7 linked regions of the Homo sapiens genome follow. The protein of the gene in region 1 purifies or fractionates together with the protein of each later gene. This does not show direct contact. Each region holds a gene or a part of one and is shown in the gene's direction. Other genes may lie near its edges. The genes, in order: HECW2, SH3BP1, EIF3J, ALKBH5, CKMT1B, DDX24 and AVL9.

Region 1 (3,500 bases):
TGTAGCATACATTTAGTACAAATTAAAGGAATTTCTCTCTCTGCGGGCTTTGGCAAATGTTTTATGAATTTCTAGAGTTTTGTTAATTAGATGAGCCATTCAAGGAGTCATCATCCTGAGTGAAGCCAGATTGTGTTGATGGTATTTTAGACTTCCTCACAGCTACAGTATGCTACCAGTCATCTTAGTGCACCATATCAGTGAAATCAAGCAAAGGGTTTTCTCATTTGAACTACGGAAAGTCAAAGAATGAACAAATAGACACTTCTTATCTAGTGAGCAAAGCTTGAGCTCTCCCTCCATTTCTTGGAGATCTGAGGCATGTTTTACATAACTAGTGTGAAAATCTTTCTGGGCTGGCATAGGAGTTACACAGTTAATTAGATCATACCCTAAATATTTAATGACAACAATATGTTCTAACAATATTGTAGAAATATTTAATTGGAGAGAGGTATATCAGGGGATCTAAAACCGATTGCAGAAAAGATATAGTTATCTGAGACTTGCCAACACAGCAAGGCATTTCTCCTGGGCAGTTCCTATGGTTTTAGATATTGAATATTGCTTGTATTCTTACACTTGGTTTAAGAAACTACTAATGATCTCATCATGGTAAAAAAAAAAAAAAAAAACAAACAAAAAACAAAAAAAACTCTTAAGGGCATGCCACTTAGTCTAATGCATTTCAAAGCCTAGAAGAAATAAAAATATATCTCAATATGATTCTAGAAAGCACATAATAGATATGATAATGAAACAAGCAGTAACTATTTTCCTAACATTTTAAATTTGCAAAGTTTTTGACCATGTCACCAGTGCAAGCCTGAAAGGGAGGCACGAAGGATGAGATTATTATGTCTTCATTTTGGTGATTAAGAAATTGAAGCTTAAAGTGTTTATGGGACTAGCTATTCAGAGACAGAAGTGGGGATTAAACTCGGCTTTTTTATTCTAAGCAAGTACTTTTTTCCATTAAGCAGACTGCCAAATTGCTTGGCCCTTTGGAAAACCTTAATTGTTATGACTAGATAAACCTAGAGGCACCTAAGTGAAAAGTTGGCTAACACTATTCACATCACTATAGTTGCATGGATACTGTCAGGGAAGCAGTGAAATAATTTAGGTTAGATTCCTGGCACCATCATTTACTTATCCTGAGATTCTCATCTTCAAAAAGAAAGTTACATCGTTGTAAAGATAAAGTGAAGATAATATATGTAAAAGTCTCTGTGAGTAAAGCTCTTCATATTTATTTTATATCCTTATTAATGTCCGATCCAAATTTCCCCAGTGGCATTCTTAAAATGAAAACAACAAAAGCTATCTTAACCTCATACTTTTATTTTTCTGTCCCAGAAGAAATGACCCTGTATGCCTTTTAAACTTAAGGAAAAATTCCATTTAAACATTCTTTTAACATTTATCAGGGAAACCACAGTATTCTGCAGATGTTCCTATTTTAACCACTAAGTGGAGGAGTATTTTCAACTATGTTTTGCAACTTCAGAATTTCATGAGATTAGGAATTCAAATTGTCAATCAAATATACTAGTTAATTCTAATCCATTCTATAACAAGATATTAAATATCAAAGAATTGAGATACAATAAATGTAGGGAGTACTAAAATTGCATTGTGCATAACTTAATATTTGATAACATCTCCTAAAACTGTGAAACTAGGAAGGGCTGCATGATTGACTGAGAGGGCTTCTTTTGTCATACAGATCCTTGACTGCTGCTTTTTAATCATGGTGAATGCTAATCATTCTGAGTGAATAAAGGATTGACAATAGCTGCAGCTATTTCTAGCTATGTGGAACTCTGTATGTTGTTAGAATTTAAGAGATACCATTTCCTATACAAATAAAATGATATAGTATCATATTTGTCTTTCTTTTAAACCAGCATGTTATCTGTTTGTGTTTTCAGAAATATTCCTTTTTTGCACTTCTTACTGATGTCTTAGAAATTGAAATTAAAGACAAATTTGCCAAGAGCCGTCCCATCATCAAGCGTTTTCTGGGGAAACTAACCATTCCAGTCCAGAGGCTGCTGGAGCGACAAGCCATCGGGTAATCAGCCCTTACCTTTGGGGATCTTGTTGAGATTAGTTCATATAGGAAAAAATGACATGAAACTTGGTAGTCCTAGGACTTTTCATACTGATAAGAAGTAGTAACACAATTCTTTTAAAAATAAAAGTGTCCTTACACTTATTAAAATGTACTTGACAAAAAAGTAGTTTATTTTAATTATATATGTTTTTTGCGTCTTTATCTTTTCCAAGATGTACCCACTGTTAATATTTCAGTGTCAAATCTCATAGTGTTTGATTGTCTCTCAGTATATTGGAGCTTTTTATAAAAACTTCTCCCTGGGGCAGAATTCTTGGATCAGGTTGATGCCTACCTTATCCTAAATAATTCCATCCAGAGAACTTGTTACTCTTGAAAAACGGAAACAATCTTGTCTTGGAGCCATTTAAAACGAGACCTAGACTTGAAGAAGTGTTATAATAAAGCTCCTAGACATATACATTCATTCAAGCAACTAAAATTTATTCATTGACATTCTCTTAAAATTTAATGTGTAATTAATGTCTATTTTCTTTTTGTGAGCTTTTTGTAAGTTGTGAGTAAAGTAGTAAGTCATACTGAGGAGATAGAGAAGACCAAAAACAAGTTATGCAAATTAATAATGCATAGCTGACTAGAGGCTCTAAACTGTACAGTGGAGCAAAGAGTAGATAGAAGAAACATTGTATCTTCCTTCTGAAATAGCCATTAGAGGGCAGAGGTGGAGTGATTTGGCACTATCCTTTTGATGATTTTCCTTAATTAAGAATAAGTTGGCCGGGCACGGCAGCTCATTCCTGTAATCCCAGCACTTTGAGCGGACGAGGTGGGCAGATCACCCGAGGTCAGGAGTTCGAGACCAGCCTGGCCAACATAGTGAAACCCTGTCTCTACTAAAAATACAAAAAAATTAGCTGAGTGTGGTGGCGGGCACCTATAATCCCAGCTACTTGGGAGGCTGAAGCTGGGAGAATTGCTTGAACCCGGGAGGTGGAGGTTGCAGTGAGCCAACATTGCACCACTACACTCCAACCTAGGCAACCCGGGCAACAGAGCGAGACTCTGTCTCAAAAAAAAAAAAAAGAGAGAAAAAGAATAAGTCATTTAATTCAGAATAAGATTGTTACTTGTGTGCAGGAAAATGAAATGACTGCATTTGACTTTGATAAAGAAACAGACTTGAAACAGATGGAAAACTCCATCCTTCAGGAGGCAGACAGTCCAAGCCCGGGGCCCAGGCAAGGCAAAAACTAAACCTGCTTCCAGATCTGGGATATGACCCCACCACAGGGGCACATCTGGCTTTGCCAACCATCCCATCAGCACTGCTTACAAGGCACCCTGAGAATCAGTGATAGGCCAGGCTTCCCAGCAGGGAAGGCCAGCAGCTCCAGCCTCCTTACTCTACAGGTGAGGAAGG
Region 2 (4,213 bases), on another chromosome or scaffold:
AGATGGGGGAGGGAACCTTGCCTGACATCTCATCCTGGCCTGAGCTTTGATCTTGGAGCCTCCCAACTTCCCACCAGGATTCCACACTCAGGTGGGCTCCCATCTGGGAGGCTCTGGCCATAGCAGGCAGCTGTTGGGTTCCCTTCTCAGCTCCTCCCACCCCCAATGAGTCCTGCCTCATTAGGGAGGAGAGAAGCAGCCAGTGAGTGTGCCAGGCCCTGGGCTAGGTGCTGGGAGTATGGAGATGTGTGGGGCCAAGGTCCTGCCTCTGAGAGGCGCCCAGTCTGCACCGGCACACAGTCTGCACCGGCACACAGTAGTGGCTCAAATAGTCTCAAACTAAACTGAAACTAACAAAGCAAAGTGCAGAGGGTGTGGCAGGACTCTGGGGCACACCCTCCCCTCTTCCCCACGCCTGCGGCTCCTGATGCCACAGGGGTGCAGGGTAAGGAGAGCCTACTGTTTCCTAAAGGCGCTCACATCTTGTAAAACCAGCAGTTATGGAGCACTTACTGTATGCCTAACTCTGTGTTGAGTGGAGGGCCAAAGAGGAGAACTACTGAGTTTGGGGGCAGTCAGAGCAGCACCTACATCATTGCCCTACAAGAAGGAAGGGGGACTGAGGCTGTTTGCCAGGAGGAATGAGAGGAGACGGGCTTCACAGATGGAGCAAACTGCCAGGAGATGTGGAGAACAGGGTGTCGCGAACCGCTCTGGGAGGGTTCCTGGTGGCTGAGGGGTGGCACGCACCTCCCTTAAAGGGAGCTGGCAGGGGTGTCTTGTCCACTCTGCAGAATGGGCAGGCCCAGGACAGCTGGCCCATCAGACCATTAGAAACAGCGAGTCCGGAGTTCCAGGGGCTTGTCCACGGCCACACAGCAGCCCGTGGCCCCAGGAAGCCAAAGCTCCCAGCCAGTCATCCAGTGGTGGGGGGTTTAGTTCCAGGGGGCCAGAGGTCCTCTGCGGAAGAGAGTGCAAGGCAGTATCCGCGGCAGGCCCAGAGAGGCCAGGACAGGTCAGAAAGGCCTACCCCTCTTTCGCTTGGTACCCTTTCCTCTTTGCGAGGGATGCAAAGGTTATTTATACTTCGGGTCTGCAGGCTGCGGGTGGGGCAGGCACCCCGCCTGGGGCGGGTTGCGGGCGCAGGGGCAGGAATGGGCTTACCTGCTTCCCGCCACCGGGGCTGGGCGGGGCGCTGCGGGGAGGAGGAGCCGGGCACAACCTGTGGACGGCCGCGGCCGGCGGACACACAGCAGCGGGGGCCCGGCCGGGGGTCGCCCGGGGGCCCGGAAGCCGGGGAAGAGCGAGGAAACCAACTTGGAGAGAGGAGTGACCTGGGGGCCGGGGGCGGAGTCGTGAGCGGGGGAGGAGAGAGCCGGCCGCCAGCAAGAGCCGCGCGGCGGCCCAGGAAGCGAGAGCGCCGCCCACCCATCCGGGGCAAGAGCCGCGCCGCAGGAGAGGCAGGCTGGACCGGGGGCTCCCCGGGCCCGCGACCCCCGCCGTGACCCCGCAGCCCCCAGCTCGCCCCCAAGATGATGAAGAGGCAGCTGCACCGCATGCGGCAGCTGGCCCAGACGGGCAGCTTGGGACGGTGAGTGTCACCCGCTTCCAGCCCCACTCTTACCCCGGCAGGACTTGAGGGGTCGTAAAAGGGTCGGGGGAGACGGGGGTGGGGGAGGCTGGGGACAGCTGGGCAGCCACCCTCTGAGCGGCCAGACTCCTGCTCTCTCTTCCTCCTCTCTGAACGCCGCCCCCGTCTCTCGGGCAGAGCTGGAGGAGCAAGGGTGGCCTTTGGGGGAAGGGATGCCCCCCCTTACCGGATTGGAGGGGGCTTCAGGCGGGAGAATGCTCTCTGCCCTAGGACGCTGGGACTTCTCTGCCTCCACGAGTCTCTAAGTGGATGGTCCTCCTGACCTCACTTGTCCCCTCTGGACAATGGGACAGTTCACCACCTCTGCTTGCTGGGCCGGGGAGGGAGGAGGGTCGATTAGGGCCACAGACCTGGGGCGAGGGGAGGAGATGGGTCCTGGCCTGGTGGGAGGAGGGGCCTGCCCCTGGCCTGCAGCGTCCCTCCCCCTCCCCCTCCCCCCAGCCCAGGGGCCTCCTGCTTCTGTCTCGTTTCTGCTTTTCCTGGACTCAGGTGGAAATATCCCCAGGTCTCCCAGCTCCCACCCCCAGCCTCTGAGCCGGTGGCACGGAGGCCGGAAGTTTGGGGAGCCTCTCAGAGCCTGTCTTCTCTGCTCCTCTTCCCCCAGCCTCAGGAGTTCCCCATTCTCTGGGTCCAGGGAGGGGACTGGGTGTCCAGAGACCTGGTTCTAGTCTCACACTGGCACAGATGCCTACATAGCCTGGACAGTCAGACCACCTTGCAGTGGGCCTTGGCATCCCCCATGTGTCCCCAGGTGGGGGCCAAGGGCCTGTGCACCCCTGCCCACAGCTGTAGTCCAGAGTGCTGTGTGACTGTGCCTAGGAGTCTGAGCTCCTGCACTTCCCGTTCTTGGGGCCAGCTAATACTCCTCATCCCGGGGTGGGCTGAGGATTTGGGAGTGGGCAGAAAAGAGGCTTCTGTGTCCCAAAGCTGGGCCCCGGGTGGGTCTCTCAGCCTCCCCTTTAGTTTCATCTGTCCGCCCTCTCTCAGGACACAGCCCTGGGTGGAGGAGGAAAAACCCATGTATCCTATTCCCACCCCCATGGAATGTGCTCCGACTGGGATGAAGCAACTGGGCCACCCAGGGCAGGCCTCAGCTGGGAGGGACAGTGGAAGCACTGGGGTCCAGGTGCCCTGCTGCGGGGAAGGGAAGTAGGGGGCGTTCTAACCCAGGCAGGCTCAGCAGAAGCACTCTCCCCCCCCCCCCCACCACTCCCCGCAGCACCCCGGAGACCGCTGAGTTCCTGGGTGAGGACCTGCTGCAGGTACGTGCCTGGGCCGGGCAGGTGGGAAGGCAGGCCTGTGCAGGCTGTCTCGGAGCAGAGGGCCGGGGCGGGGACGCCAGGTAGGGGCCTGGGTTGAGTCATTCCTCAAGCTGTTGGCCATGGGGTCCCCAGGGGACAGGAGAAAGTTTCCTGCTCAGGGGGAGACAGCCTCTCTTGATCCTTAACCTCCATACCTCCTTCCCAGGTAGAACAGCGGCTGGAGCCGGCCAAGCGGGCAGCCCACAACATCCACAAGCGGCTGCAGGCCTGTCTGCAGGGCCAGAGCGGGGCAGACATGGACAAGCGGGTGGTGAGTGGGGGGTCCCGGGAAGGAGGGGCCTGAGCAGGAGACTTCCATCCAATGGGGAAGCAAGGTCGGGGCTGGGGTTTCCTTGCCAGTCTGAGTGTCTGGCACCAAGGGCATGGAGACTGCTCTGTTCCAAGGCCCCTCTGGCACTGCACTCAAGAGGCCCTATACCTTCCCCATCACCTTTACCCCACTTCCCTGTGCACCAGTTCCCATAAGCCAAGGCCAGGCTTCTGACAGCACCTGAACTTCTCTGTCCAATCAGTGCGCAAGAGCAGGCTGTCAATGGGGCGGCCTCAGAGGGTTTCCTGAAGGAGGTAGCAATTGAGCTGGCTTTTGAGGGATACACGTTTATTAATCAAGAGGCAGCGTTTATTGGCTGATAACCGCCAGCTTGTTACTAACATATGAGTGCACTGTCTCATGGAACACTGGCACAACCCTAGGGGCAGGCATTGCTTTACACATGAGGAACTGGAGGCTCAGAGATAAAGTCACTTGTCCAAGGTCACATAGCTAGTAAGTGGCAGAACTGAGGTTTGAACCCTGGTCTCTGATCCCAGAGCAGGCATTCCCCGTAACTCCAGATGGGGTGGGAGTGTGGGGCCATGTTTTGGAATCAGTTGACAATTCAGTGTGGCCAAGGCAAGGAAATTGGGAGCCATAGAGCGTTTGAACTCAGCGGTGGCTAGGTCAGCCATATATACCCTGGGACAGGGGAAAGAGCTCCCGCTCCCATTCTCCCTCCACCTGTGTGACCTGGGGCAAGCTCCCTGCCCTCCCTGCATCTTAGTTTCCCAGTCTGCAGTAGGACTTGGTCATTCCTTCCTGCCCAGTCAAGTGGCTTCTGGGAAGAGGAAAGGGCACGCCAGATGGAGAGGGGCTCCATCCATGCTCTCAGGGAAATGTCACCCCCACCACGCCTTGTCATCTTGTTTCCACTCTCATCTGGGACTGTGGCCCTCCTGGGTTCCCTCCTCCCCTGCCCCAAGG
Region 3 (3,500 bases), on another chromosome or scaffold:
TGGGCGGATCACTTGAGGCCAGGAGTTCAAGACCGGCCTGGCCAACATGGTGAAACCCCATCACTGCTAAAACTACAAAAATTAGCTGGATGTGGTGGTGCACGCCTGTAATCCCAGCTACTCGGGAGGCTGAGGTATGAGAATCACTTGAACCCAGGAGGCAGAGGTTACAATGAGCGAAGATCATGCCACTGTGCTCCAGCCTTGGTGGCAGAGTGAGGCTCTGTCTAAAAAAAAAAAAAAAAAAAAAAAAACTAAAGTGTTTAGAAGAATGCCTGAAACAGTAATTACCAGTGTTCACTTTTATTTGTTATTATATACGCTTATTTAAGAATTCGTACAATACAGAAAGGTACTGAGTGCATCATAATCCCTGTGCTTTTTAAAAACTTTTGTCTCATTTTAGTTAGAAGAACCCGAAGAACCTAAAGTGCTAACACCAGAAGAACAATTAGCAGATAAACTGCGGCTAAAGAAATTACAGGAAGAGTCAGACCTCGAATTAGCAAAGGAAACTTTTGGTAAGACGGGATTATGATTGCAATACAGTATTAAACTGTTACAGGTGAAGACCCAGAAAGTTCAGAAAACATCTCCTTTTCTTAAAAGAAACATACTGGCTAATGTAGATATTAGAAAGCAGTTTTTAATCTCTGTGTATATTTGAGATTTCATTACATGTTCAGATTTTTGAATAATTGTTTTGAGTAAAAGATTATTAAGATAAGTCATTTATAGCAATGCAAGAAGGGCAAAAAGGAGTAGACTCAGATGAAGTACACTACTGCATAGAATATTTTTATCAGCTGGATGAAATTTGCATGAAATGTGAGGTCTGTAGCTTTGAAATGGACTGTAGGGCTGTCCTGTTGTCTTAAGACTTAGACAGTAGGATGTTGCTCCAGGTGAGAGGCATGCAGCTTTTGCTGTGCCTTCTTGTGCTCAGTGTCATTTCCTTCTGCAACCCTTCTTTGCCCTTACCATGCCCTATCTTTAGAGGGCCTCCATTTCTTTGTGCGGTGTCTGCAGCTGTGGTTAGTGCGTGAGATAAAAGTGCAGGATCCTATAAATAGATAAATTCAGAGTGTTCCAGAGTAAGAGACATGGCTAGAGAAATAGTCAAAGCCCTCGCTTCATTTAACCAAGTTATCGTTACCTGTTGAGTACTTTTCAGAGTAGAAGATCATGTTGAAACAGTTAAATCACTGAAATTTATAACCAAGAAGGAAAGCTCTAGTTATTCTGATACCCCTCCCCCACTTTCATACTTTCTCTACTCTGAAACAGATCAACAGGCTGACTGTAGTGATTGTTTTCCTTTTCATGAGGAAGTATGACCTTATCTGTCAGTGGATCTGTACAAATACCAGGAGTTGATGTGAATGCTCCTGTGCACCATTGTATGCTTGGCAGGTCTTAACTGCACTCATCTAATTATAGAGAGCTCTTGGCTGTTAATATGTGTCTTCCTAGGATGGTAAAAGCTGCCCATGTGTTTATTAAAGAGGCAGGTTTATGAAGTGTGCATAAAGCCTAGCATGGGACACCTGTTATAGACTAAAAGGTAAAAACATGCATTCATATAGTCATTGTTAATAGGATTTTACTGTTGTGTTTCTCATACTAAAATACCACATGTAATATTGTTAATAACTAATCTACTTGACATGGAGGATACAGAAGCATACTTATCTTAGTGTAAAACTCATCTAGGCCAGATTTTTTTTTTTCTAACAGGGTCTGGCTCTGTCATCCAGGCTAGAGGACAGTGGCTGAGATCGGCTCACTGCAACCTCTGCCTCTGGGCTCAAGCCATCCTCCCACCTTAGCCTCCCAAGTAGCTGGGACTACAGGCGCATGCCACCACGCCTGGGTAATTTTTGTTTTTTGGGGCTTTTTTTGTAGATACAAGGTTTCACCATGCTGCCCAGGCTGTTGTTGAAGTCCTGAGCTCAAGTGATCTGCCGCCTTGGCCTCCTAAAGTGCTGGGATTACAGGCATGAGCCACCATGCACAGCCTAGGCCAGATTTCTTCTATTGGGATTTAACATGTTTACCCCCGCTTAGCTTCTGGAGTTAGACAAATACTTTCACAGGATCCATCTTTGTTTCTTATTCTTTTTGTTCCCTCTCTCCCCACTTTACTGTGGGGGTGTTCTTGGACAAGAACAGAGTATCCCTTTTGTAATGTAATATGTTGTGTTTTGTTTTTAGAGAAAGGTTCTTGCTCAGTCATCCAGTCTGGAATGCAGTGGCATGACCATAGCTCACTGCAGCCTCAAACTCCTGGGCTCAAGCAATCCTCCCACCTCAGCCTCCCGGGTAGCGAGGGCTACAGGTGAATATCACCACACCTGGCTAATTTTATTTATTTTTTTGAGACAGAGTCTCACTCTGTCACCCAGGCTGGAGTGCAGTGGTGCAGTCTCGGCTCATTGTAACCTCCGCCTCCTGGGTTGAAGTGATTCTCGTGCCTCAGCCTCCCAAGTAGCTGGGATTACAGATACATGCCACCACCATGCCTGGCTAATTTTTGTATTTTTGGTAGAGACAGGGTTTCACCATGTTGGCCAGGCTTGTCTCTCGGACTCCTGACCTCAGGTGATCGGCCTGCCTAGGCCTCCCAAAGTGTTGGGATTACGGGTGTTAGCCACTGCGTCTGGCCACACCTGGCTAATTAAAAAAATTTTTTTTGTAGAGATGAGGTCTTGCTGTGTTGCCCAGGCTGGTCTCAAACTCCTGGCCTCAAGCGATCCTTCCTCTTAGGCCTCCCAAACAAAACACTGGGATTACAGGTGTGAGCCACTGTGTCTGGCCTTGATATATTGTTTTTAAATGAATAAAATACTTATTTATAAAGAAAACCTGTTATATATAAATAGATGTCAAAATACTAAAATGACAAATTTGTGATACAGAATTATATGCTTCCTTATCGATGCATTAAATCAGGTGTAGTGGCACGTCAAATAATGTCATTTGAGAGTAATTATGACTGAACAATATTAATATTGTAAGATATCTGTAATGGCAGGAGAGTGTGATCTCTCCTGGTAAGTCAAGTTTTGCTAATACCACTGTGATTTGTTGCCAGTCAATTGAAACTGAAGGAAATGCTGAATTAGAGGTTAATAAAGATGTAACTTTTTTTCTGATTTAAGTTTGTAACCCCCCTCCCCCCTCACCCAGCCATTCTATCCAGTGACTCCAGTGGCTCCAGGTTCAGAGCCCCTGCTTTAGAATGAAACGACAGGGTTATTCAGATAGCTATTGGCTTTGTAAGGTTTCATTTTTAAAAATCCTAACCTCCTGATACTTTTCAGTGCTTCTTTTCTCCTACAGGTGTTAATAATGCAGTTTATGGAATAGATGCTATGAACCCATCTTCAAGAGATGACTTTACAGAGTTTGGAAAGTTACTAAAAGATAAAATTACACAATATGAAAAGTCACTATATTATGCCAGTTTTTTGGAAGTCTTAGTTCGAGATGTGTGTATT
Region 4 (2,627 bases), on another chromosome or scaffold:
TGGGGTTAGTAAGTGGAGAAGGGGGTGTTGGGAGGCCCAAGAGAGAGAAAGTGGGTAGAGCTGGGAAGTAAAGGTAGATGGCAGAACCATGCAGAGTCTTGAGGCTGTGGTAGGGAAGACCTCTGTCCAGCAGCCCTGGCAGTGTCCCAGGGCACCAGACTCCAAGCCAGGCAGACCCCACAGGGTAATTGGGAAATGTCCCAAAGACTGGGATGGTCACTGGCACTTAGTGGGCAAGAACCTCCGATACCAGGGCCTCTGCCAGGACTACCCTTCGTTGAGGACCACTGAGCTGAAGTGACCCATCCCAAGGATGAGACGAGGTACAGCGGTAAAGCCAGGCGCCTCCTGCCAGCCTCTCAGATAACGTCCTACCTCCCTTTCCTTGCAGGCCACGGATCCTGGAGATGGACAAGGAAGAGAACCGGCGCTCGGTGCTGCTGCCCACACACCGGCGGAGGGGTAGCTTCAGCTCTGAGAACTACTGGCGCAAGTCATACGAGTCCTCAGAGGACTGCTCTGAGGCAGCAGGCAGCCCTGCCCGAAAGGTGAAGATGCGGCGGCACTGAGTCTACCCGCCGCCCTCCTGGGAACTCTGGCTCATCCTTACGTAGTTGCCCCTCCTTTTGTTTTGAGGGTTTTGTTTTTGTTCATTGGGGGGTTTTTGTTTTTTGTTTTTTGTTTTTTTTGATTCTATATATTTTTCCTTGGTTTTGTTGCCTGTTAGGGCTGAAGAATAGAATTGGCCAGGACCTAGGTTCTCATATTCTTGGTATTCCTCCTGGATGGAAAGGCTGTTGGCATCAATAGGGGACAGAGGCTGATGCTGGAGTGGCCAGTAGAGGTGGTGGAGCAGAGCAGCCATCTTTTAAGTGGGGCTGTATCAGGCTGGGTTTATTTAAAAGCAACAAAATGTTTTGGTTAAGAAAATTATTTTGCTTTCAGTGTAAATCTTCGCAGTGTTCTAAACAAAGTTCAGTCTTCTGCTCGCCCCTTTCCCTCACTGATGTCTGCACTTGGTTGAGGTCTCCTGGAGCCTCACAGGCTCTGCTGTTCTCCACTTCTCACCTGCCATCCACGCCCTGCAAGCTCATGCAAACACCCTTTCTTCCTCCTGCGGCAGAGTTGTTCAGGTTGCCTGGGCAGGGGCTTAAACAGTGCCAGCCCCTGCCATCCCAAAGCTATTGTTAAGCCCCCCAGGCGTCCTCCACCCACGCCCACTAGCCTGCCATGTCCACAGTTCCTTGGGCTGCTGAGGGGCTAGTGCAGTGGTCCTGACCTCTCTTATCAAGAGCACACTTCTTTGCTGGTTGCTCCTTTTGAGCATATGCGTGTGATTATTTGGAACAGTTAGACTTGCCACGTTGGGTCAGTTTTAGAAATTGTTTCTAGCTAGAGGGACTGGTGTCCTTCCAAGTCTAGCATTTGGGGTATGGAAAATTGTTGTGGTGTGTGGTAGGGTTTTTGTTTTCTTTTTTGAGTTTTTTTTCCCCCTTTAGTCTCCTGGCTTTTTCCTTTCCCTTCCCTTCTCCACTGGCCAGCTTGGGCCTCATCCTCATGTCATCCTTCTAGGAAGGCGCCTGCCCCATCTTGTCTGCCGGCAGCATGCATCCAAGGCCAGAGCTCAGGCCTGCAGACTGGGCTGGTGCCTCCTCCGCTTCAGGGTATGGGAGTTGGTGAAGGGGCTTTCAAAAAATAATAAGGAAAAAAAGGTAAAGTCTTTGGTAGCTTCTATCCACTCAGATCCTGGAAGGCAGCAAGGTTTTGTGGATCTAGATTCATTAGGAATGTCTTCTTGTCAGCCAGGCCAGGACCCGGGCTTGCCAAGAGCAGAGGCCCTCCCAGCAACCAGGATACCACCACTTTGGGGGCTTTGTGTACAGAGGTCCGGGTCTGAGACCTCATAGGCTGCAGAAATCTGGGGCAGCCACCATCAAGAAGCCCCTCTCAGGGGCCAGAACTCCTTTGCCAGCGTGGATTTCTCAAGTCGGGACTGCATAATTAAAGCAGTTGCAGTTTTATTTTTTTTACAGCTTTTTTCCCAAAAATGATTTGTAGTTGTGTGTGCAGCACTTCGCCCTGATATGTGTGCTCTACAATAAAAACCAAATCTAATATATTTTGAAACAGTTGTCTGATGTTGTTGTAAGAGAGGGCTTGCCTTTGGTGCTTCCTTAATCCCTTTACTTTCTTAAACTTGAAACAGGGGTTGGGGAGGCAGAGCTAGCTCATTGGCCGCCAGCGTCCCAGAGGAGTTGGTTGGTCTTGGACACTGGGCCTCCTGTGTGCCTAGCCTTGGGTTTATGGCTGAAGGTGGACTTGCCCTCACCCCACTGTCCTTTCTCCCACTCCAAGGAGGGTGAACTTCATAAACCACAATGTCCAGGTGCCCAGGGACCACACCTTCTGGAGTTCTGGAAGTCCCTCTTTTAGATATGATCACTGAGAGGCTGGTGCTGGTGAAGGGGGAGATGGCAGGCACAAAAGCAAGGGAGAACCTGGCTTTTGTGGAAAATATGCGAGTGATTTTGCTCATTAAACAAATACTTGGCCAGGCACGGTGGATCACCTGAGCTCAGGAGTTCAAGACCAGCATGGGCAACTTGGCAAAACCCCATCTCTACTAA
Region 5 (4,166 bases), on another chromosome or scaffold:
GTATCTGTCTTGTGGGTACACCAGGATAGCAGAGGGAAGGGACTAATGCCACGGTGCTACTCCACCTTAACTGACCCTCCACGCTGAAGCCCCTCATCTCTATTTCAACTCTAGCATTCATTCTCCTTGCTACCAGGACAAAGGTCAAATCATACCTGGAGCTGGGAAACAAAGCCCTCTCAAATCTGAATATGTGTTTCACGAGGAGAGAGAGAGCAGCAGAGGGGACCACGAGGAAGGCAGAGATTCCCTGACGACCTCATGCCTTTGTACACCACTCGCCTTTACTCTCTGGATTAAACAGCATTAGGGAGACAAGAGAGGAAACACATGTGGTGTCTGGAGACCTGTGCCTGCCTGTTCCAGTCCCACACCCAGTCATCTCACCACACCCTTCACCTCACTTTACCTTCTCCTCCAGCACAGGAACTAGGAACTACGGAGAGAGAAGCCAAGGGAGAGGAGGAGGAGGAAACTAACGATTCCCTGCCCACCCCCACACCCAGCACCACCAACAGGTGGGCAAGCTTGCCGAGAAAACGCAGAGGGCATCCTGTGAGCAGCAAACACATCTGAGCCTGGAAAAGACGCAGAGAAGTAAAAGATCAAAGGTGAGGTAGGGGACGTGGAGGAAAGTGGGAGAGACAAAAGGAAAACAAAAAGTGGGGGATCATGAGAAGCAGAGGCAGGAAATAACAGGGCTTCAGACTTGGGTGCAGAATGGAGGTGGAGGACACAGCACAGATGGCATAAGAATTAATATTTCCTTGGTTCCTCCCAGGGAGTCCTTTCTCAACTTTGTAAGGCGTGCACAGAGGTGGCAAGGAAGCACCTTGCTCCTCTTCCTGGTTCTAAGGAAAAGGTGACCTTGAGCCAGTGGGTGTCTTTCCCAGTGCCTGCCTCTAACCCTGTGCTTTCTCCATATCCTCCTCTGGTATCTGTGTTTATTCCGCGGTTTCCCCGCGGCTGCCCCCGGGAGACCGAAGAGGTGGCTGGGGCAGGCCGAAAGCAGAGGAAAGGTTGGGCAGTGTCACCCTTGCACACCCACAGGGTAGACGGATCGAGTTTCAGCTTAAACCGAGGGGTGTGGGGGAAGGGTGTTGGGTTCAGCTAGTCCACGTGGGTGCTGTCCTCCACTTGGTGCTGAAATCTGGGCGGCCACATCCCCGGGGCGGGAGGGGGCTACATCCCCGGCTTTAGACGCGCGAGTCTCAGGTCCCGCTAATTACCTGGCGGGTGCTGCCCACCCCTGCCCTCGCGCACCTAGCGCGGTGGCAGGCGGGAAGGCGGGGCCTGGGGGAGCCCCACCCCTGGAGACTGCGGCTGGGGCCTCCCTCTCCTCCGCCCGCCCGCCTGCCACTAGCTCATTGCGCCTCTCCTGCAGTCTGATTGGCACCGGCTCCCATTCCGGCTCCAGCCTCCAATCCGACCCCCATTTCGGCTGCAGCCTCGGACCTAGCTCCGGCCCTCGGTCTATCCGGTTGCATCCTCCCTCCCTGTTCCGGATCTTATCTTGCGCCAGCGCCTACTCCAGGATCCCGTAGCCAGACCTCAAGCCATGGCTGGTCCCTTCTCCCGTCTGCTGTCCGCCCGCCCGGGACTCAGGCTCCTGGCTTTGGCCGGAGCGGGGTCTCTAGCCGCTGGGTTTCTGCTCCGACCGGAACCTGTACGAGCTGCCAGTGAACGACGGAGGCTGTATCCCCCGAGGTAACAGTGCCTGAGGCGCGGGAGGAGGCGGGGGCAGGAGGTGATGGGAACGAAGGTGCGGGTAGAAGTGAGAATCCGGGCAACAGAGAAGGGCTATAATCACGAAGGCCCTGGAGCTGGAGGGCTGTGCAGTCTGCAGACCTCAGTGGGGTGGGGGTGGGGGCCAAAACCATAAAGCAAGAACATTCCTGGGGACCTGCCAAGACCAGCTCTGGCCCTACGAGTTCTAGCTGCACTGGCTGCCCAAATCCCTAATTGTAAAGCCAGGAACTATCCTTTTCGCTCCCCTCCATCTCCTTCCCTCATTTCCTCAATTCCTCTCCTTAGGCTTTTCCCCTCCTCCATCCGTAGTGTTGTGTCATGGGAGGAAAGAACTGAGCAGATCTGAAGAAACTGAGCTGGCCAGCCAGAGGCAACTAGAACTATTAGGAAAGCATAGACTCTGAAAGTCCCTAAAGAGATTACCAAGGTTTACCCTCTTTCTAATTCCCCCTCCTCCCGCGGAGCAAAGCCAGACATGGCCAACTGGACAGCTCCCAGGTAACTGCACTAGGTCTAGGCGTCTGTGCCCTCCCTCCATGGTTACTGGGTACCCCCTCCCCAGCGCTGAGTACCCAGACCTCCGAAAGCACAACAACTGCATGGCCAGTCACCTGACCCCAGCAGTCTATGCACGGCTCTGCGACAAGACCACACCCACTGGTTGGACGCTAGATCAGTGTATCCAGACTGGCGTGGACAACCCTGGCCACCCCTTCATCAAGACTGTGGGCATGGTGGCTGGAGATGAGGAGACCTATGAGGTAGGGGGTCCCCAGAGTCTCCCTGATGATCCAATTCATCTTCCCAGTAATCCCAGCTCCTTTCCCCTAAAGACCTCTCACTTTCCCCCAAGACTCTGAGCCCCCCATACTTAAGTTTTCTGAACCAGTGAAATCAATGCACAATTGAAGTCTGGGGAGGGATTCCCTCTCCTTAACCATCTCTCCCTCTTAACTCCCCTTAGGTATTTGCTGACCTGTTTGACCCTGTGATCCAAGAGCGACACAATGGATATGACCCCCGGACAATGAAGCACACCACGGATCTAGATGCCAGTAAAGTGAGTTCAAATATCCCACTTCTGATTTGCATTGCCTGTGTACAACACTCTGTATCTCCAACCCCTTCACCTTATTTCCTGACTCATGGTCATTATACAGCTGAGCTTTTAATCTTAATGTAAGGAAAGAATCATATCTTAAGGGGCAGCATATATGGAGATGGAAGGATAGATAAGAATGACCATGACCCAAGGTGGGTGGTTTGGGGAAAGGTCTGCAATGCCCCCTTCAATTCCAGTGCTTTCCCAAAGGGCCTCTTCTTCCAATGCATGCAGGAAGAATGCACAAAGAGTCCTCTAATGCCTAAGGAAGGTCTCTCCTTTCCCAGGGGCCCTCAGTTCCCACCGTGTTTCTGTGACTTACATTCATTTCCCTTATCTCCCAGATCCGTTCTGGCTACTTTGATGAGAGGTATGTATTGTCCTCTAGAGTCAGAACTGGCCGAAGCATCCGAGGACTCAGTCTGCCTCCAGCTTGCACTCGAGCAGAGCGACGAGAGGTGGAACGTGTTGTGGTGGATGCACTGAGTGGCCTGAAGGGTGACCTGGCTGGACGTTACTATAGGCTCAGTGAGATGACAGAGGCTGAACAGCAGCAGCTTATTGATGTGAGGGCCTTAAGAGGGTGCTGGTTGGTGGGAGCAGATGGGGAAGGCTGGGCCAGATGAGACATGGGCTCTGAAAGGCCCAGGGGCCACCATGAAGATTCTTAACCCAAGTCCCGTTACTCTTCCCAGGACCACTTTCTGTTTGATAAGCCTGTGTCCCCGTTGCTGACTGCAGCAGGAATGGCTCGAGACTGGCCAGATGCTCGTGGAATTTGGTATGAAGCTGCTCATTACCTCTTTTGTCTTCATGCCCTCATAAATGCTTTTTTTCCCTCTATCTCTCCCAATTCTTGCCTTGCCTCTTGATCACTGTCCCTCTCCGGCCCTCAGGCACAACAATGAGAAGAGCTTCCTGATCTGGGTGAATGAGGAGGATCATACACGGGTGATCTCCATGGAGAAGGGTGGTAACATGAAGAGAGTGTTTGAAAGATTCTGCCGAGGCCTCAAAGAGGTTAGAGAAGACTATGTAGGGGAGCTAGGTGGGAGGACATAAGGAAAACCAAAGAGTAGCATAAATAGATTATGTAATTTACCAACCAACCCAGGACATGTCTTATAGTAAAAAGGACTATCTAGGACTCACTCCAGGACTAAAGGTGTAAACCAGCTGGGACCATACTGGGAAAACCAGGACATGTGGTCACACTAAGATTAGGAAAAGAAAGAGTGTCAGGAATCTTAGGAAGTGAACAAGGCTGTTGACAGAGAGTGCAAAGAAGGAATAAATGAGATGGCACGTCAGTGCC
Region 6 (3,500 bases), on another chromosome or scaffold:
TGTGTGTTTAGGATGAGTGTAGGGTGTGCTATAGATGATTCCTCTTAACCCGCTGCTGACCAATGATATGGGTCTCTCTGGATCTGCAGGTGCCTGGTAGTGGATGAGGCTGACCGGATGGTTGAGAAAGGCCATTTTGCTGAGCTCTCACAGCTGCTAGAGATGCTCAATGACTCCCAATACAACCCAAAGAGACAAACGCTTGTTTTTTCTGCCACACTCACCCTGGTGCATCAGGCTCCTGCTCGAATCCTTCATAAGAAGCACACCAAGAAAATGGATAAAACAGCCAAACTTGACCTCCTTATGCAGAAAATTGGCATGAGGGGCAAGCCCAAGGTCATTGACCTCACAAGGAATGAGGCCACGGTGGAGACGCTAACAGAGACCAAGATCCATTGTGAGACTGATGAGAAAGACTTCTACTTGTACTACTTCCTGATGCAGTATCCAGGCCGCAGCTTAGTGTTTGCCAACAGTATCTCCTGCATCAAACGCCTCTCTGGGCTCCTCAAAGTCCTTGATATCATGCCCTTGACCCTGCATGCCTGTATGCACCAGAAGCAGAGGCTCAGAAACCTGGAGCAGTTTGCCCGTCTGGAAGAGTAAGTTAGGACTGTCCCCAGAGGCTTAACCTCTAGTTAGTTACTGGGGTAAAAGGGGTCAGGATGGTGGGGAAATGGTAGAAAAGCCACCTTCTGTCATAGGGGCCTTGTCTCAGTAGTAGGTAGCCTTTTTTTTTTTTTGCACAGCATTTGGCAAGGTTACTGTCATTTAGTGAATTTGGTTGCAGTTAAATGCCATACAGAAACTTCAATACTAATGAATATAGGTGACAATACATAATATTGAATGTATAGACAATAGATTAGGTCCTGTGCTGGCACTTTAGATTCAGAATCACATTCAGTTACTCTCCTAACATCCTTAAGAGGAAGCAGAATAGATTCATGGTTAAGAGCACAGATCCTGGAACCAGAATGCCTGAAATCAAATCCTAGTTCTGTCACTCCTTAGGTGGTCAAGTTATTTAATTTCTCTGTACTTTAATTTTCTCATTATTTGGATAATAATAGAACCCATTCTAGGGTTGTTATGAAGATTGATTGTAAATTCATGCGTGTAAAGTGTTTAGAACAGTCTCTAGCACATAGTATGTATATATTGCTAAATGTTAGCTTTAATAATTTCTAGTCCCTTTACTACTTATTACCATTATCACTATTCTCATTTATAGATGGAAAAATGAGGTCTAGAAAAGCTGATCAGTGTGCCCAAGGTTTCTCTGCCTGGAAGTGGTAGAGCTGGGCCTCAGACAAGCCTGTCGGACCTCAGAGCCCATGCTATTTCTTATTCCTGATGTCTTTGTCCATCTGCCTTTGGACCAGACTGATGCTCAGGGAATGGGGTGCAGATTGTCAAGATGAGGGCCTGGAAAGTTGAGGCAGACTACAAAGTGTCTTTTGCCAGTGTTTTGTCAGGTCATGGGGTAATTAGTTTCTAGAACAAGTGTTTGATTTACTGGTTTTTAAAAATTGGTAAGTAGTATCAGTGGTTTACTGAGATTAGCTTAGAACAAGGCTTGGCAAACTATAGGCCTCGTGCCAAATCTTGCTTGCTGCCCTTTTTTTTTCTAAGATGGGGTCTTGCTATGTTGCCCAGGTTAGACTTGAACTCACGGGCTCAAGCAATCCCACCTTAGCCTCCTAAGTAGCTAGGACTACCAGTGCATGCCATCACACCTGGCTGCTGCCTGTTTTTTTAGTAGACGTTTTACTGGAACACAGCAAGACCCATTTATGTATTGTCAATATCCTCTTTTGCGGCAGAGTTGAATAGTTGCCATAGAGACTGTGTGGTTCACAAAGCTGGAAATGCTCTCTGGCTCTTTACAGAAAAAGTTTGCTGACCTTGATCCAGAGCAGTAGTTTAATGTTTTACAAACTAGGATTTGCATTGCATTTCCCGGCCTCAGCTCAGACATGCAGGGAGTGAGGACCCTGAAGGGCCAGAGTCTTATGTTTTGAAGCACCTCAAGTACTTTTGACTTTCCATGAACCACACATTGAGAAACATCATCCAACACATTTATCAAGTGCTTACCATGAACCAGATGTTGTTCTCTGTGGTGGTAATAACAGCAGTGAGTAATGCAAAGTCCTTGCTCTCATGAAGCTTACATTCTAGTAGAGGGAGATAATAAATTGCAAAGTAAGCCCACAGTCTGCCAAGTGATCCTAAGAAGTAAGTCGAGCAGGGGTTGGAGAAAAGAGATTGGGTATGTGTGGTCAGTCTCTGATGAAGTGAGAATTGAGCAGAGAGCTGAAGAAAGTAATGAAGTGAGTCATATGGACATCTGAGGCAAGACCCTTTAAGGCCTTAAGGAGTAGCAAGTGCAAAGGCTTGGAGGTGAGAGCATGCTTGGTTTGTTTGGGGAAGAGCAAGGAAGTCTGTGTGCCACTGGGAGGAAGTAAATGAGAGGGTGCTAGGAGAGGAGTCACTGACCCAGAATATGTATGGCCTCATTTAACTCACTGAAGGGAGTCTTTATCATTGCAGAGTATGGCATGTTGGTTGGGGTCAATGAGTCCCAAATTTGGATCCAGACTCCACAGCTGAATAGCCATGTAGATAGCTTGGGAAGTTAATCTCTCCGAGCCTCAGTTTTTCTGTAAAAGGGTATACAAGTGATATCTTACAGAGTATTGGTAAGGACTGTAATGTTTAGGATGCTCAGCAGTTGGTAAGAATTTGATTAAAGATAGCTGTTAGTTATTATTAATAAGCTTTCTCTCTCTACCCCAGCTGTGTTCTCTTGGCAACAGATGTGGCAGCTCGGGGTCTGGATATTCCTAAAGTCCAGCATGTCATCCATTACCAGGTAGGGGCATCTGAAAATTTATAGGCATCTGCCTGCACTGAATGGGGAATTTTTAAGGCAAAGGTTGGGGGAGGGAGGAGGAATTGTTGGTTCCAAGGCTCTTGCATCAGAGAATACCACTGGCATCGAGTGCCCACTACTCCCACTTTTGCAACACTGCTGAGATTTGGTCTCCAGAAAACCTTGCTTTGTCTCATGTCAAGTAGCCCTTCTCTCCAAGCTACTTGATATTGTCAGGTTAGAGTCTTAGTTTTTTCTGTGAAATGGGCATAAGTTAAGCATGTAATTGGTTACCCTGATGTAGAGAAGTATTAATAGAAGAGTGTGGTAGTTTAGATCTCTCTGGGCTCAAATCCCAGCTGTGTAACCTTGAACAAGTCATGTAATCTCTCTGTATCTCAGTTTTCTCATGTATTAAATGGCAGTGAGTACCTGCTTCTTAGGGTTCTTACTGAGGTAAAATAAGTTACTAAGTATAAAGAGCTTAAGAAGCCACCTGGCACATTGCAAGCACTTACTCATGTTAACTGCCATTGATAGTAGCAGTAATATTAGTGTGTGCATCTAGTGAATATCAGCATAAAATTTTGGTTAGGAGTATGGGCACCGGAGCCAGACT
Region 7 (3,500 bases), on another chromosome or scaffold:
CCATCTCTACTAAAAATACAAAAATTAGCTGGACATGGTGGCAGGTGCCTGTAATCCCAGCTACGCGGGAGGCTGAGGCAGGAGAATCGCTTGAACCCGGGTGGCAGAGGTTGCAGGGAGCCGAGATCGTGCCACTGCACTCCAGCTTGGGCGATAGAGTGAAATTCTGTCTCAAAAAAAAAAGAAAAAAAAAAAATTCAGCCACACTGAGGTTTTTGTAGTTTCTGACAGAAAGTATGAAAACATGTTTCTTGGGTGAATGGTTATAATATAATGAAAGTCCAGGATTCAAAGATGTATTTATTATAATCCCAAATTTGAAGAAGAAAAAGTATATACATTTTCCAAGACAGGAGGATACAGATGGGAGGACCATAAAGCTGCTTCATCATTATTGGTTACATTCTAGTTCTGTAGTTGGTTGGTGGGTTCGTAGGAATTTCTTTTATTATTATACTTCAAAACTAACCTGTAAGTTACATGTATTTTTTAGTATATCAAATATTACATAATAAGATATTCTAAAGTATCTGGCCGGGCATGGTGGCTCACGCCTGTAATCCCAGCACTTTGGGAGGCCGAGGTGGGCAGGTCACAAGGTCAAGACATCGAGACCATCCTGGCTAACATGGTGAAATCCCATCTCTACTAAAAATACAAAAAATTAGCCGGGCGTGGTGGTGGGCGCCTGTAGTCCCAGCTACTCAGGAGGCTGAGGCAGGAGAATGGCATGAACCCAGGAGGCAGAGCTTGCAGGGAGCCAAGATTGTGCCATGGCACTCCAGCCTGGGCGACAGAGCAAGACTCCGTCTCAAAAAAAAAAAAAAAAGAATATTCTAAAGTATCTGCACGCAAAAGAAAAAGTATTTAAGGAATTATACTTGTTAAATGTGTTCATTTCTGCTAGTGAAATAAAGGTGATTTTTACATGTATTTCTATATTTTCCCAAATATTTGCAATCTAGGTGAGTAATTTTGTAATTTAAAATACTATATTTATGTGTGTATTTTCTAAAAACAGAAAATGAGCATTTTATAAATAGAAAGAAAACTTCAGTGTACAAACCTCTTTCTTAGACTCACCTTTTGAGAATGCCATTATTCATATTTTTTATTTCCAGCTCCACCTTCCCCGTAGTTACTCTGTAAAGTGTGGCATGGATGTCTGCGTGAATGCCCAGACTCTGACTTGTACCTGGATACCCTCTAGGTAGAAGAAGCTCTGATCCAGATCCATGATCCAGAACTCAGGAAGCTGCTTAACCCAACCACTGCAGACCTAAGGTTCGCAGACTACCTAGTGAGGCACGTGACTGAGAATCGGGATGACGTCTTCCTAGATGGCACGGGCTGGGAGGGAGGTGACGAATGGATCCGGGCCCAGTTTGCGGTCTACATTCATGCCCTGCTGGCTGCCACACTGCAATTAGGTAAGAAACCACACGGAGCCTACAGCTACCTGTTTTATTATAATTTTTCATTTTGTAACATTTATGAGATTTTGGATTGCACAATAAATACATATTCCTTATAGAAAAATTACCAGTTATTCCCTCATACAAAGATAGCCACTTTTAACGTCTTTAGTACTTTATAGCCTTGCAAATCTTTTCCTATGCATGTATTTTGGATTTTGGTTTTATGGTACTTTTGGTGGTCCTTTTACAAAAATGGATCCCTTTATACATGTTTTCTGAAACTATTACTTTATAATAGAAACAACACATACCAACATAACATGAACATATATCATCACTTTTACATGACTGCTTCATATTCATCAGTATTTGGCAGCTGTTTGTGAATACTGCCACATGTTTTTTAAGATGTATAAAGGGAGAAAGAATATAAAAAATAGAAATCATTGAAAATCGTGTTGTAAATGATTAAATCTTCAAATTTATAACCCATTCTAAGAAATATTATTATTCGTATTAAATGGTTAAAATGGAGCAGGTAAACATGGAGTTACTCCTGCATTAAAACTATCTCATTCTCCTTGGGAAAGAAATATATAAATAGTGAAAATGGAGCTCTGCAGTGAGCTTTTCACCTTGGACATTTGGCAGATATTTATTAGAGTTGTTAAAAATGTGTTGAGCTTGTGTTTTTGTTTCAGTTAACTAACCATTATTTTTTTAATTGTGATGAAATACACATAGCATAAAATTTACCATCTTTACCATTTTTAAATGTACAGTTCCACAGTGGCATTAGATACATTCATTGTTGTATCAGTAGATTTTTTTAATCAACACCACCACCACATGCTCCCAGGTTAGTTGTTTACAGTGCACATAGGAGTTTTAAAGTAGGTTTCGGGAGAGTTTTTCATTTGTAAAAGACAGCTGAGGAACAAGCCCTCGTTTGTTAATGAGATATTTTTAAATGTTTGCCACCACTAACAATGTAGCAGCTGAGACACCAAAATTAAATCCTTTAACCCCAAATCATTTGGTAATCTAGAAAGAAAACTTCAGTCTCCACTGCCATGTAGCTTAATTAATTTGCTTTTAAGCAAATTAATTAATTTGCTTTTTTAAAAATATTTGCCCAGGAGGCTGTAAGCACTGAATAATAGTAGCTCACTTTTTTTTTTGAACATTAAATATATGCAGGGACCAGTGTTCTGAGCACTTTACATCTAGTAATTCATTTCATCCTTACAGCAATCCTGAAGGTAGGGACCTTGTCATTGCCTTTTACAGAAGAGAAAATGAAGCTCACAGAGGTTCATAAGAGGCTTAGGTGGGATCTGATCCCAAACAGTTTGGCTTAGGCCCATACTCTTACAAGTAACAAGGTCAAAAGAGGAAATTCAGCCCAATGAACTGCTTGAGGAAGTGTTCTTAGAACAACTTCTTTATGCTGTGTATGGAACTGTGTATCTCATTCATTTCCTTTCCTAGCAACAAAAGGTACTTTGTATTTCACCTTCAAAGTAAACAACATGCAATTAATATATGAAGTAATAGCCATTTGTATCAGTTCTCCAAACCATTTCTAATCTTCCAAGCGGAGGAAACACATATGGATGCTTTCCCATGGTATTGATAAAGCTGAAAACTTTATCAGTTTTCAGTATATTCTTTTAAGACTTTTTTTGTTTTGTTTTGTTTTGTTTTTTGAGACAGAGTCTCGCTCTTGTTGCCCAGTCTGGAGTGCTGTGGCATGATGTTGGCTCACTGCAACCTCCATCTCCTGGTTTCAAGTGATTCTCTTACCTCAGCCTCCCGAGTAGCTGGGACTACAGGTACCCGCCACCACGCCTGGCTAATTTTTGTATTTCTGGCAGAGACAGGGTTTTGCCATGTCGGCCAGGCTGGTCTCGAACTCCTGACCTCCAGTGATCCGCCCTCCTCGACCTCCCAAAGTGCTGGGATTACAGGCATGAGCCACTGCACCTGGCCTTTTTTAAGTGTTTTTGACAGTGAAATGCTAGGAAATTCAAGAATGAAACACCAAATAAAGTCCAAAGGAGAGAACATCATGACTGAAAG

What was found.
Region 2: the proteins of HECW2 (region 1) and SH3BP1 purify together in Homo sapiens (affinity purification with mass spectrometry, with the first as the bait; one large-scale study listed by BioGRID). This does not show direct contact.
Region 3: the proteins of HECW2 (region 1) and EIF3J purify together in Homo sapiens (affinity purification with mass spectrometry, with the first as the bait; one large-scale study listed by BioGRID). This does not show direct contact.
Region 4: the proteins of HECW2 (region 1) and ALKBH5 purify together in Homo sapiens (affinity purification with mass spectrometry, with the first as the bait; one large-scale study listed by BioGRID). This does not show direct contact.
Region 5: the proteins of HECW2 (region 1) and CKMT1B purify together in Homo sapiens (affinity purification with mass spectrometry, with the first as the bait; one large-scale study listed by BioGRID). This does not show direct contact.
Region 6: the proteins of HECW2 (region 1) and DDX24 purify together in Homo sapiens (affinity purification with mass spectrometry, with the first as the bait; one large-scale study listed by BioGRID). This does not show direct contact.
Region 7: the proteins of HECW2 (region 1) and AVL9 purify together in Homo sapiens (affinity purification with mass spectrometry, with the first as the bait; one large-scale study listed by BioGRID). This does not show direct contact.

Annotation. Positions count from the first base shown.
Region 1 is NC_000002.12:196,321,055-196,324,554, reverse strand, and holds part of HECW2 (E3 ubiquitin-protein ligase HECW2), read left to right. Parts: intron 1-1,934; coding exon 1,935-2,077; intron 2,078-3,500. UniProt on the Homo sapiens protein: E3 ubiquitin-protein ligase that mediates ubiquitination of TP73. Acts to stabilize TP73 and enhance activation of transcription by TP73. Involved in the regulation of mitotic metaphase/anaphase transition.
Region 2 is NC_000022.11:37,638,256-37,642,468, forward strand, and holds the start of SH3BP1 (SH3 domain-binding protein 1), read left to right. Parts: upstream 1-1,413; 5' UTR 1,414-1,532; coding exon 1,533-1,591; intron 1,592-2,870; coding exon 2,871-2,913; intron 2,914-3,118; coding exon 3,119-3,223; intron 3,224-3,576; exon of another isoform or gene 3,577-4,213. UniProt on the Homo sapiens protein: GTPase activating protein (GAP) which specifically converts GTP-bound Rho-type GTPases including RAC1 and CDC42 in their inactive GDP-bound form.
Region 3 is NC_000015.10:44,554,147-44,557,646, forward strand, and holds part of EIF3J (eukaryotic translation initiation factor 3 subunit J), read left to right. Parts: intron 1-406; coding exon 407-521; intron 522-3,342; coding exon 3,343-3,500. UniProt on the Homo sapiens protein: Component of the eukaryotic translation initiation factor 3 (eIF-3) complex, which is required for several steps in the initiation of protein synthesis.
Region 4 is NC_000017.11:18,207,828-18,210,454, forward strand, and holds the end of ALKBH5 (RNA demethylase ALKBH5), read left to right. Parts: intron 1-391; coding exon 392-569; 3' UTR 570-2,127; downstream 2,128-2,627.
Region 5 is NC_000015.10:43,592,661-43,596,826, forward strand, and holds the start of CKMT1B (creatine kinase U-type, mitochondrial precursor), read left to right. Parts: upstream 1-1,366; 5' UTR 1,367-1,558; coding exon 1,559-1,707; intron 1,708-2,034; exon of another isoform or gene 2,035-2,218; coding exon of another isoform or gene 2,219-2,311; coding exon 2,312-2,510; intron 2,511-2,713; coding exon 2,714-2,809; intron 2,810-3,195; coding exon 3,196-3,417; exon of another isoform or gene 3,418-3,418; intron 3,419-3,546; coding exon 3,547-3,632; intron 3,633-3,747; coding exon 3,748-3,871; intron 3,872-4,166. UniProt on the Homo sapiens protein: Reversibly catalyzes the transfer of phosphate between ATP and various phosphogens (e.g. creatine phosphate).
Region 6 is NC_000014.9:94,057,203-94,060,702, reverse strand, and holds part of DDX24 (ATP-dependent RNA helicase DDX24), read left to right. Parts: intron 1-89; coding exon 90-605; intron 606-2,805; coding exon 2,806-2,881; intron 2,882-3,500. UniProt on the Homo sapiens protein: ATP-dependent RNA helicase that plays a role in various aspects of RNA metabolism including pre-mRNA splicing and is thereby involved in different biological processes such as cell cycle regulation or innate immunity.
Region 7 is NC_000007.14:32,571,989-32,575,488, forward strand, and holds part of AVL9 (late secretory pathway protein AVL9 homolog), read left to right. Parts: intron 1-1,121; coding exon of another isoform or gene 1,122-1,210; coding exon 1,211-1,430; intron 1,431-3,500. UniProt on the Homo sapiens protein: Functions in cell migration.